Linked DNA regions of Homo sapiens. The gene in region 1 interacts genetically with each later gene. Each region holds a gene or a part of one and is shown in the gene's direction. Other genes may lie near its edges.

Region 1 (4,807 bases):
AACGGGAGGAGCAGCTGTCCCTGAGAAAATCAAGTAAGATCTGTGTTCTTACCTGGCTTTTGTGTGCTATCAACCCTTAGAGGTAGCCATAGCGGCAGGAAGCAAATTGCTTTTGGTGAAAGTGAGGCAGTGCAGACTGTGGGCTCTGGAGGCAGACCTCATCAGCTCAGCACTTCCCTCACCTCCCTCAGCCTCCGCTTCTTGGACTGCAGTGCAAGGTGATAATTACCCCTGCCCTAGGGTAGTCAAGATTAAATGGAGAGCAAAGCCTGGCTTATGGGAAACATTCCCTTATGCTTTCCCTTTTCCCATCTAAACAAAAAACACATTTCTGCAATGATTGTTATTTTGTCTAAGCCACATTAGCCTTTTCAAAATACAGATTTATACCAAAACAGTGAAAAGTTAGTTGAGATTATCATTTTTTCTGAAAGGATAATGGAGACATCTCTGAGCCACCACCAGAATCCAGGGTGATAGGGTCCATTGGTCAAAGCCACAAACAGGGTGAGTCATCCTCACACAGGCCAGCTTCAGGCTGTTCATGCTCAGGGCAGATTTCTTGTGCTCATGCCTAACCAGTGTTGTCCTGTGTTGCAGGATCAAGCCAGCCCCGTACCCCATGGGAAGCAGCCATGCTTCCGCCAGTAGCATCAGCTTTAACCCCAGCCCTGAGGAGCCGGCCTATGATGGCCCAAGCACCAGCAGTGCCCACTTGGCACCAGTGGTCAGCAGCACTGTTTCCTATGATCCTAGGAAACCCACTGTGAAGAGTAAGTAACTTGGAGTTCCTGCTCAAATATTATTTCAGCACTAGTTTTTAACTCTCAATGTCATTATTCACTGTATTACATTTTGTGGACTGCATGTTGCATGTACATGATGCCTTGCACATAGCTGGTCTGAATGTCAGTCCCTCCTTCCCCCTGCTTTGTCCATAGTGCATTATATCTCTTAAATAGTTATAGTGAGTCTGGGTGCAGTGGCTCATGCCTGTAATCCCAGCACTTTGGCAGGCTGAGGCAGGAGGATCCCTTGAATCCAGGAGTTCAAGACCAGCCTGGACAACATAATGAGACCCTCTACAAAAAATTAAAAAATAGGGCATAGTGGTACACACCTGTAGTCCCACCTACTCAGGAGACTGAGGTGGGAGGATTTTTTGAGATGGAGTCTCGCTCTGTCACCCAGGCTGGAGTGCAGTGGCACAATCTCAGCTCACTGCAAGCTCTGCCTTCCAGGTTCATGCCATTCTCCTGCCTCAGCCTCCCAAGTAGCTAGAACTACAGGTGCCCACCACCATGCCCACCTAATTTTTTCTATTTTTTAGTAGAGACGGGGTTTCACCATGTTAGCCAGGATGGTCTCGATCTCCTGACCTCGCGATCTGCCCGCCTTGGCCTCCCAAGTGCTGGGATTACAGGCGTGAGCCACTGTGCCCGGCCGACCCTGTCTCTGGAAAAAAAAAAAAAAAAAAAGTGAAAGTAGAAAATAGTATCTGGCCAGGCATGGTCCCTGTCTCTATTAAAAATAGAAAAATTAGCCCACCATGGTGGCATGTGCCTATAATCTCAGGTACTCGGGTGGCTGAGACAGGAGAATTGCTTGAACCTGGCAGGCAGAGGTTGCAGTGAGCTGGGATTGTGCCACTGCCCTCCAGCCTGGATGACAGAGTGAGACACTGTCTCTAAATAAATAAATAAATATCATTGTGAATGACCATTTTGGCACTCTTCTTTTTTCACCTAAATATAAACTGACTTCTCTAGGCAATACCACAGTGTTCATAATTACTAATATTAACAGCTAAATGACAGGCCCTCTTACTGTTTTTTTATAGTCTTATAACTCTAGCTTCCAAATATTTATTCTTTATATCTAATTGGGTCTTCCAATTTATTTATTTATTTTTTTTTTTTTTTTTTTTTTTTTTTTTTTGGAGACAGAGTCTCACTCTGTCGCCTGGGCTGGAGTACAGTGGCGTGATCTCGGCTCACTGCAACCTCCACCTCCCAGGTTCAAGCGATTCTCCTGCCTCAGCCTCCCAAGTAGCTGGGATTACAGGTGCCCGCCACTAAGCCCAGCTAATTTTTTGTATTTTTAGTAGACACGGGGTTTCACCATGTTGGCCAGGCTGGTCTCGAACCCCTGACCTTGTGATTCGCCCGCCTCAGCCTCCCAAAGTCCTGGGATTACCAGCGTGAACCACCATGCCTGGCCGGGTCTTCCAAATATTTATTCTTTATATCTAGTTGCGTCTATTTTGTATTTTGTTAACTTTATTACCATAGACTATCCCCAGTATCCTAAGGGGATGTCCTAACTTAAGTCTTATTCTGTATTAATTGCAGGGCCCATGGGAGGGTGGGAGTCCTGGCTTGAGCTACAGCTATGCTCAGATGAACCATTCAGGAGGCAGGCTGGCCTTCCTTAGGCAGTACTTGCATAGCCACCTTAGACCTGTTTCTACACTGGACAGATTGGGGGTAGACGTGCTGTTTACTGGTTTGGCTATTTGTGAGGCAAAGTTAAGTTATGACTGAGTATGGCCTTTAGAGTCTGGCAAGGGCCGGGGCACAGTGGTTCACACACACCTGTAATCCCAGCACTTTGGGAGGCTGGGGTAGGAGGGTGCTTGAGCCCAGGAGATCGAGACCAGCCTGAGCAACATAGTGAGACCCTGACTCTACAGAAAATAAAAAAAAATTAGCCAGGCATGGTGGCACACTCCTGTAGTCTCAGCTACTCTGGAGTCTAGGAGGTAGAGGCTACAGTGTGCTGTGATTGTGCCAATGCACCCTAGCCAGGGTGACAGAGTGAGACTCTTTCCTTACAAAAATAAAAACAAGAAAGTCTGACAGAGATTGAATTGTAATTCTGTACCTTACTGTACAACCATGGGCAAGTTGGCCAGGCTCTCTGAGCCTTGGTGCAGGTGGTTAGAGAGAGTGGTGGTCATGCCCCTGGCAGGTCCTCCGAAAGTGTCTGCTCTGTGCTGTTGCTTTTATTGCATTGTGAACAGAGGAGATAGTTACTACTTGTATCTCTGCCTGGTGGTGCACAGCCAAGAATAGCAGAGCTGGCTTTGACTGTAAACTACTGGGGGTGTGTCTAAGCCGCCACAGATCTGAGACAGCTGCCTTGTTTCTCTTTTCACAGAAATTGCCCCAATGATGGCCAAGACAATTAAAGCTTTCAAGAACAGATTCTCCCGACGATAAACTGAGGACTTGCCTTGGAAATGGAATCTGGGGAGGCAGGAATACAAGGACAGTGGGGGTTGGGGAATGGAATTCTACAGGAGACTGGAGTCTTGCTTTGTGGATCCTTTTGGTCTCCGAGTCCTGCAGTCTGCAGGTGCTGCCCCTGGGAACCTGCGTGCCACAGCCCCGCCTCCCTGCCTGGAGCACACTTTAGAATTCTGAAGATGTGAAGCCTCTGTCTCACTGAGGATTTTAAAGGTCAATTATACTTTTGTTGTTCATTAGCATCTTTGTAAACTATAAGACGTAGTTTTAATTAATAAATATTGCCCCCAGATTGTATTTATATTATCCCCCAGGTTTGTTTTTGTTTTTTGTCCTCTACCACACATTTAGCCTTTTATCTTCCAGGTCCTTATTAAAATCAGATGAAAGCCTAGTGAAAGCCAGTCTCCTGCCCCAGCTCAGCTCTGTGTGGACTCTGGTCCAGACAGAGGACTGGGCATCTCCAGAGCCTGCACAGTACCTGCTGCACGTAGGGCAAGGAATGAGCACTAGACCGCCTGTCCCCAAGGGAGCCTCAGTGGGGCGACAGGGTGCTCGGCGGACTCCACCTCAGGCCCTCCCCACTGTTGCTGTGCATTCCTGTGCAGGTGCATCTCTTTCTTACTAACTGGTATTTATTAAGGGAGGTGCTCTGTAGGTCTGGAGCCTTTCCCTCATCCTTTTTGCGAGTCCCCACCTTTTTGTTTTTTTTTTTTTCTTTGAGGCTCACTAGAGGACGCAGAACCTTGGGAGATTGATTTGCACAGAACTCCCCACCTCCCACTTTTACAATTTCCAGTTTCTGATTGAAAATTTTAGGGTTTCTCCCCACTGCCCTTCCCTATCTTTCCTTCCCCTCAACACCATGAAGGAAAAACACACACGGCAGGGCTTTTTGTAGCCCTGAAGGCAACTTTAGACATTTAAAATCCAGCACTTTAATCTCTTGTTCTCTGTGAATCACTATGAGAAGTGAATGGTTTTAAAGGCTGTAATGCTATGTTGGAAATTGGTTTGTTTTGCCTTTTATTGAAAAGGTAAGATCATGTGATTGGAAGAACACAACTGTTGGCTTGGGAAGAGGACTTTGCTGCTGAAGTGTTTTCTACCTTCTGAGTGTGTTTAAGGCAGGATTTGGAGGGAAGGACCAGCTTAGGGAGAGTGTCTGAGCCACAGCGTCAGGATGGGGGAAACCACATGGGATCCATCAAGTTCCAGTTGAACAGGAGCAAGATCAGAACTTAGGAGGGCAGTGTCAGCTCCCTTGTTGGCTGTCAAGGAACACCGATCTAGTAGAAACCCACTTGGTTGTGACCCAGGTAGAGGTAGATGCCATACATTTGAGATATGCGTCCTTAAGGAACCTGACAAGCAGACTGAAGGGATGGTAAGTGTGACAGCCTGATAAGTTTTCTCAAAGCCCAGGATACAGAGCCAGTGTTTTCTGTAACTGGAGACCTCAGTTAGGCCAACTTCGAATTCCAGAGCAACGTAGGAAGTCTATTCAGCAGAAACTCGACATTGTTCAGTGTGTATTGCTGTGCAGGGTGCCTATTGTG
Region 2 (4,706 bases), on another chromosome or scaffold:
GTGACACGCGTGCCCACAGGGTGACCCGAGAGGCGTGCCCTGAGCTGGACTACTTTGTGGTCTTCTCCTCTGTGAGCTGCGGGCGTGGCAATGCGGGACAGAGCAACTACGGCTTTGCCAATTCCGCCATGGAGCGTATCTGTGAGAAACGCCGGCACGAAGGCCTCCCAGGTGGGCCCCACCCTCTCCCCTCGACCCTGCCCACCCTGCCCTCTCCCAGTGGCCACTCCCCACCCCCACCTTCTCCCCGCAGCCCTGCCCACCCCACCCTCTCCCAGTGGCCACTCCCCACCCCGACCTCCCCGCAGCTCTGCCCACCTGCCCCCTCCCCCACAGGCCTGGCCGTGCAGTGGGGCGCCATCGGCGACGTGGGCATTTTGGTGGAGACGATGAGCACCAACGACACGATCGTCAGTGGCACGCTGCCCCAGCGCATGGCGTCCTGCCTGGAGGTGCTGGACCTCTTCCTGAACCAGCCCCACATGGTCCTGAGCAGCTTTGTGCTGGCTGAGAAGGCTGCGGCCTATAGGGACAGGGACAGCCAGCGGGACCTGGTGGAGGCCGTGGCACACATCCTGGGTGAGCACTCCCAGTAGGAGCCGCGCCAGGTGTTTCCCCTGCTGGCATCAGGGTCTTGGGACATAGCAGTCGTGCCCCTGTGCGCCTCAGTTTCCCCATCTGCAGAGCCAGGGTGCGGGCGCAGGTGTCACTGTGGTGGTGGTGCTTTGGGAGATGCACAGCCCACGCACCCCTGGGTGTCAGCCCTGCCGCATACAGGCCGTCCCCATGCCCCCTCTGGAGTTGCCGACCCGGCGCATCCCTTCCAGGCATCCGCGACTTGGCTGCTGTCAACCTGGACAGCTCACTGGCGGACCTGGGCCTGGACTCGCTCATGAGCGTGGAGGTGCGCCAGACGCTGGAGCGTGAGCTCAACCTGGTGCTGTCCGTGCGCGAGGTGCGGCAACTCACGCTCCGGAAACTGCAGGAGCTGTCCTCAAAGGCGGATGAGGCCAGCGGTGCGTGTGGGTGGCCAGGCGGGAGTGGGGTCCCCGGGCCTCCCCAGCCCTTCCTCCTTGTTGTCTGGACCGTGTCCCGGCAGGCATACCGCCCTTCGTCACGGGTGCCATTCTGAGCGTTCCCACCCCGACTCCCACCTGACGTAGCACCGTGGGGACCTGCGTGCGTGTCTGTGTGTCCTTGCGTGGGTGCCAGGGCTCTGCACCCAGACCAGCCTGGCATCTGCCCCTGTCTTCACAGAGCTGGCATGCCCCACGCCCAAGGAGGATGGTCTGGCCCAGCAGCAGACTCAGCTGAACCTGCGCTCCCTGCTGGTGAACCCGGAGGGCCCCACCCTGATGCGGCTCAACTCCGTGCAGAGCTCGGAGCGGCCCCTGTTCCTGGTGCACCCAATCGAGGGCTCCACCACCGTGTTCCACAGCCTGGCCTCCCGGCTCAGCATCCCCACCTATGGCCTGCAGTGCACCCGAGGTACTCCCGGGCCCTCCTCTGGAAGCGGTGGTCAGTGCTGGCCATCACGGGGCCCGTGGCTGCCGCCTGCACATGCTGAGTGCCCGGCACTGCCATTGCAGCTGCGCCCCTTGACAGCATCCACAGCCTGGCTGCCTACTACATCGACTGCATCAGGCAGGTGCAGCCCGAGGGCCCCTACCGCGTGGCCGGCTACTCCTACGGGGCCTGCGTGGCCTTTGAAATGTGCTCCCAGCTGCAGGCCCAGCAGAGCCCAGCCCCCACCCACAACAGCCTCTTCCTGTTCGACGGCTCGCCCACCTACGTACTGGCCTACACCCAGGTGAGAGCCAGGCTGGTCCTAGAGGCCTACGGCAAACGTCTGGGCTCCCCACCTGTGCCCTGGCTTTGGGGGACCGTCGCTTAGGAGGCCCCGCCCCTTCCATCTGCTCAGCAGTCCCTCCTTCCTCTCAGAGCTACCGGGCAAAGCTGACCCCAGGCTGTGAGGCTGAGGCTGAGACGGAGGCCATATGCTTCTTCGTGCAGCAGTTCACGGACATGGAGCACAACAGGGTGGGTCCTGGACACCCCTGAGGCCGCAGGACCCAGAGTACTGGGCAGGAACGGAAGGGGGAAGGGAAGGATGGGATGGGACGCGAAGAGCGTTAAAGGCCCCCCAACTTCACCCCTTTAATAGCCGATCCCGGCCGGATGCGGTTGCTCATGCCTGTAATCCCGGCACTTTGGGAGGCTAAGGCGGGCAGATTACCTGAGGTCGGGAGTTCGAGACCAGCCTGACCAACGTGGAGAAACCCCTTCTCTACTAAAAATACAAAAATTAGCCAGGCATGGTGGCACTCACCTATAGTCCCACCTACTCGGGAGGAGAATCGCTTGAACCGGGTAGGTGGAGGTTGCGGAGGGAGGAGAATCGCTTGAACCGGGTAGGTGGAGGTTGCGGTGAGCTGAGATCGCCCCACTCCATCTAGCCTGGGTAACAAAAATGAAACTCGTCTCAAAAAAAAAAAGCCCACCCGCAGTGTAGCACAGGGCAGGCCGGTGCTGTGGGTGCTGCCAGCACCTGCTCAGAGCCCGACCCCACAGGTGCTGGAGGCGCTGCTGCCGCTGAAGGGCCTAGAGGAGCGTGTGGCAGCCGCCGTGGACCTGATCATCAAGAGCCACCAGGGCCTGGACCGCCAGGAGCTGAGCTTTGCGGCCCGGTCCTTCTACTACAAGCTGCGTGCCGCTGAGCAGTACACACCCAAGGCCAAGTACCATGGCAACGTGATGCTACTGCGCGCCAAGACGGGTGGCGCCTACGGCGAGGACCTGGGCGCGGACTACAACCTCTCCCAGGTGCGCAAGGGGCCTGACGGGAACGGGGACAGGGACAGGAGTGGGGTGGGACGGCAGCTGATCGCATCCCCTGCAGGTATGCGACGGGAAAGTATCCGTCCACGTCATCGAGGGTGACCACCGCACGCTGCTGGAGGGCAGCGGCCTGGAGTCCATCATCAGCATCATCCACAGCTCCCTGGCTGAGCCACGCGTGAGCGTGCGGGAGGGCTAGGCCCGTGCCCCCGCCTGCCACCGGAGGTCACTCCACCATCCCCACCCCACCCCACCCCACCCCCGCCATGCAACGGGATTGAAGGGTCCTGCCGGTGGGACCCTGTCCGGCCCAGTGCCACTGCCCCCCGAGGCTGCTAGATGTAGGTGTTAGGCATGTCCCACCCACCCGCCGCCTCCCACGGCACCTCGGGGACACCAGAGCTGCCGACTTGGAGACTCCTGGTCTGTGAAGAGCCGGTGGTGCCCGTGCCCGCAGGAACTGGGCTGGGCCTCGTGCGCCCGTGGGGTCTGCGCTTGGTCTTTCTGTGCTTGGATTTGCATATTTATTGCATTGCTGGTAGAGACCCCCAGGCCTGTCCACCCTGCCAAGACTCCTCAGGCAGCGTGTGGGTCCCGCACTCTGCCCCCATTTCCCCGATGTCCCCTGCGGGCGCGGGCAGCCACCCAAGCCTGCTGGCTGCGGCCCCCTCTCGGCCAGGCATTGGCTCAGCCCGCTGAGTGGGGGGTCGTGGGCCAGTCCCCGAGGAGCTGGGCCCCTGCACAGGCACACAGGGCCCGGCCACACCCAGCGGCCCCCCGCACAGCCACCCGTGGGGTGCTGCCCTTATGCCCGGCGCCGGGCACCAACTCCATGTTTGGTGTTTGTCTGTGTTTGTTTTTCAAGAAATGATTCAAATTGCTGCTTGGATTTTGAAATTTACTGTAACTGTCAGTGTACACGTCTGGACCCCGTTTCATTTTTACACCAATTTGGTAAAAATGCTGCTCTCAGCCTCCCACAATTAAACCGCATGTGATCTCCACCACCGTCCTTTCTTCCCTCCTCCCTGACCTGGCAGCTGCAAGCTCTCCAGCTCCACCCCACCCAGTCACGGGGCCGTGAAGGGGATGCCCTCTGTCCTCTGGTCCCCAGTTCCCACACACCCCTAGGCCATGTCCCAGAGCCGGGGCTGGGCCGGGGAGTGAGGAAGGAGCCCGCGTGGCAGCCCCGGGCTTCCCGGGAAAGCGCTGGGACTGGCGGGGGGGGGGGTACCGAGGCTCTGGCCAAGAAACACCACCAGTGAGAAACGTGTAGGAGGTACAGACACTGGGAAGTTGGCTTCAGCTGAGGAGAGGCCCCTCGTGGAGAATAGTATTTGCTTGAAGTCAGTGGATTGCAGGCATTCGCCCTGCCAAAGATGCCGTCACAGCCTCACCAAGACGGTGTCAATAGCGCCACTGGCTGGCCAGGTTGACCCAGAAGACTTGGGTTTAGGCAAAGGAGTGGAGGCTGGGAGGGAGCAAGGGACAGGGAGCCCTGGGCACCTGGACCCCCGGCATCGAGGGGTGGGGTGGACACAGCCTCCAGGACCCATAAGGGCAGCACCCCACGGGTGGCTGTGCGGGGGGCCGCTGGGTGGACATGAGCTTGGGGTAGAGGCATGGGCAGGAGCGAGAGCCAGGATTGGATTTCGGGAATGGGCAAAGCAGGCCAGCCCGGGGTTCCGGAAGGCACAGCATGCCCACAGAAGAGGCCCTTTCAGTGTGAGTGCCAAGGCACAGAGGTGGGTGGGGGGCTGGGAGAGCCCCTGCTGGAGAGGCAGGGGAGGGGTGGGCGCAGGGGCCATCTCCCAGGGCAGGGTAGTGGGCCAGGACTACAGTGAACACCACGGGCCCTGCTGGGGGGG

The links. A genetic interaction does not mean that the proteins touch.
Region 2: changes in ELOA (region 1) and FASN together harm fitness less than expected from each alone (positive genetic interaction), as found in Homo sapiens cells (one large-scale study listed by BioGRID).

What each region holds. Positions count from the first base shown.
Region 1 is NC_000001.11:23,756,353-23,761,159, forward strand, and holds part of ELOA (elongin-A), read left to right. Parts: coding exon 1-33; intron 34-600; coding exon 601-773; intron 774-3,159; coding exon 3,160-3,221; 3' UTR 3,222-4,807. UniProt on the Homo sapiens protein: SIII, also known as elongin, is a general transcription elongation factor that increases the RNA polymerase II transcription elongation past template-encoded arresting sites.
Region 2 is NC_000017.11:82,077,474-82,082,179, reverse strand, and holds the end of FASN (fatty acid synthase), read left to right. Parts: intron 1-19; coding exon 20-171; intron 172-336; coding exon 337-579; intron 580-827; coding exon 828-1,016; intron 1,017-1,257; coding exon 1,258-1,488; intron 1,489-1,589; coding exon 1,590-1,810; intron 1,811-1,941; coding exon 1,942-2,040; intron 2,041-2,571; coding exon 2,572-2,823; intron 2,824-2,899; coding exon 2,900-3,037; 3' UTR 3,038-3,842; downstream 3,843-4,706. UniProt on the Homo sapiens protein: Fatty acid synthetase is a multifunctional enzyme that catalyzes the de novo biosynthesis of long-chain saturated fatty acids starting from acetyl-CoA and malonyl-CoA in the presence of NADPH.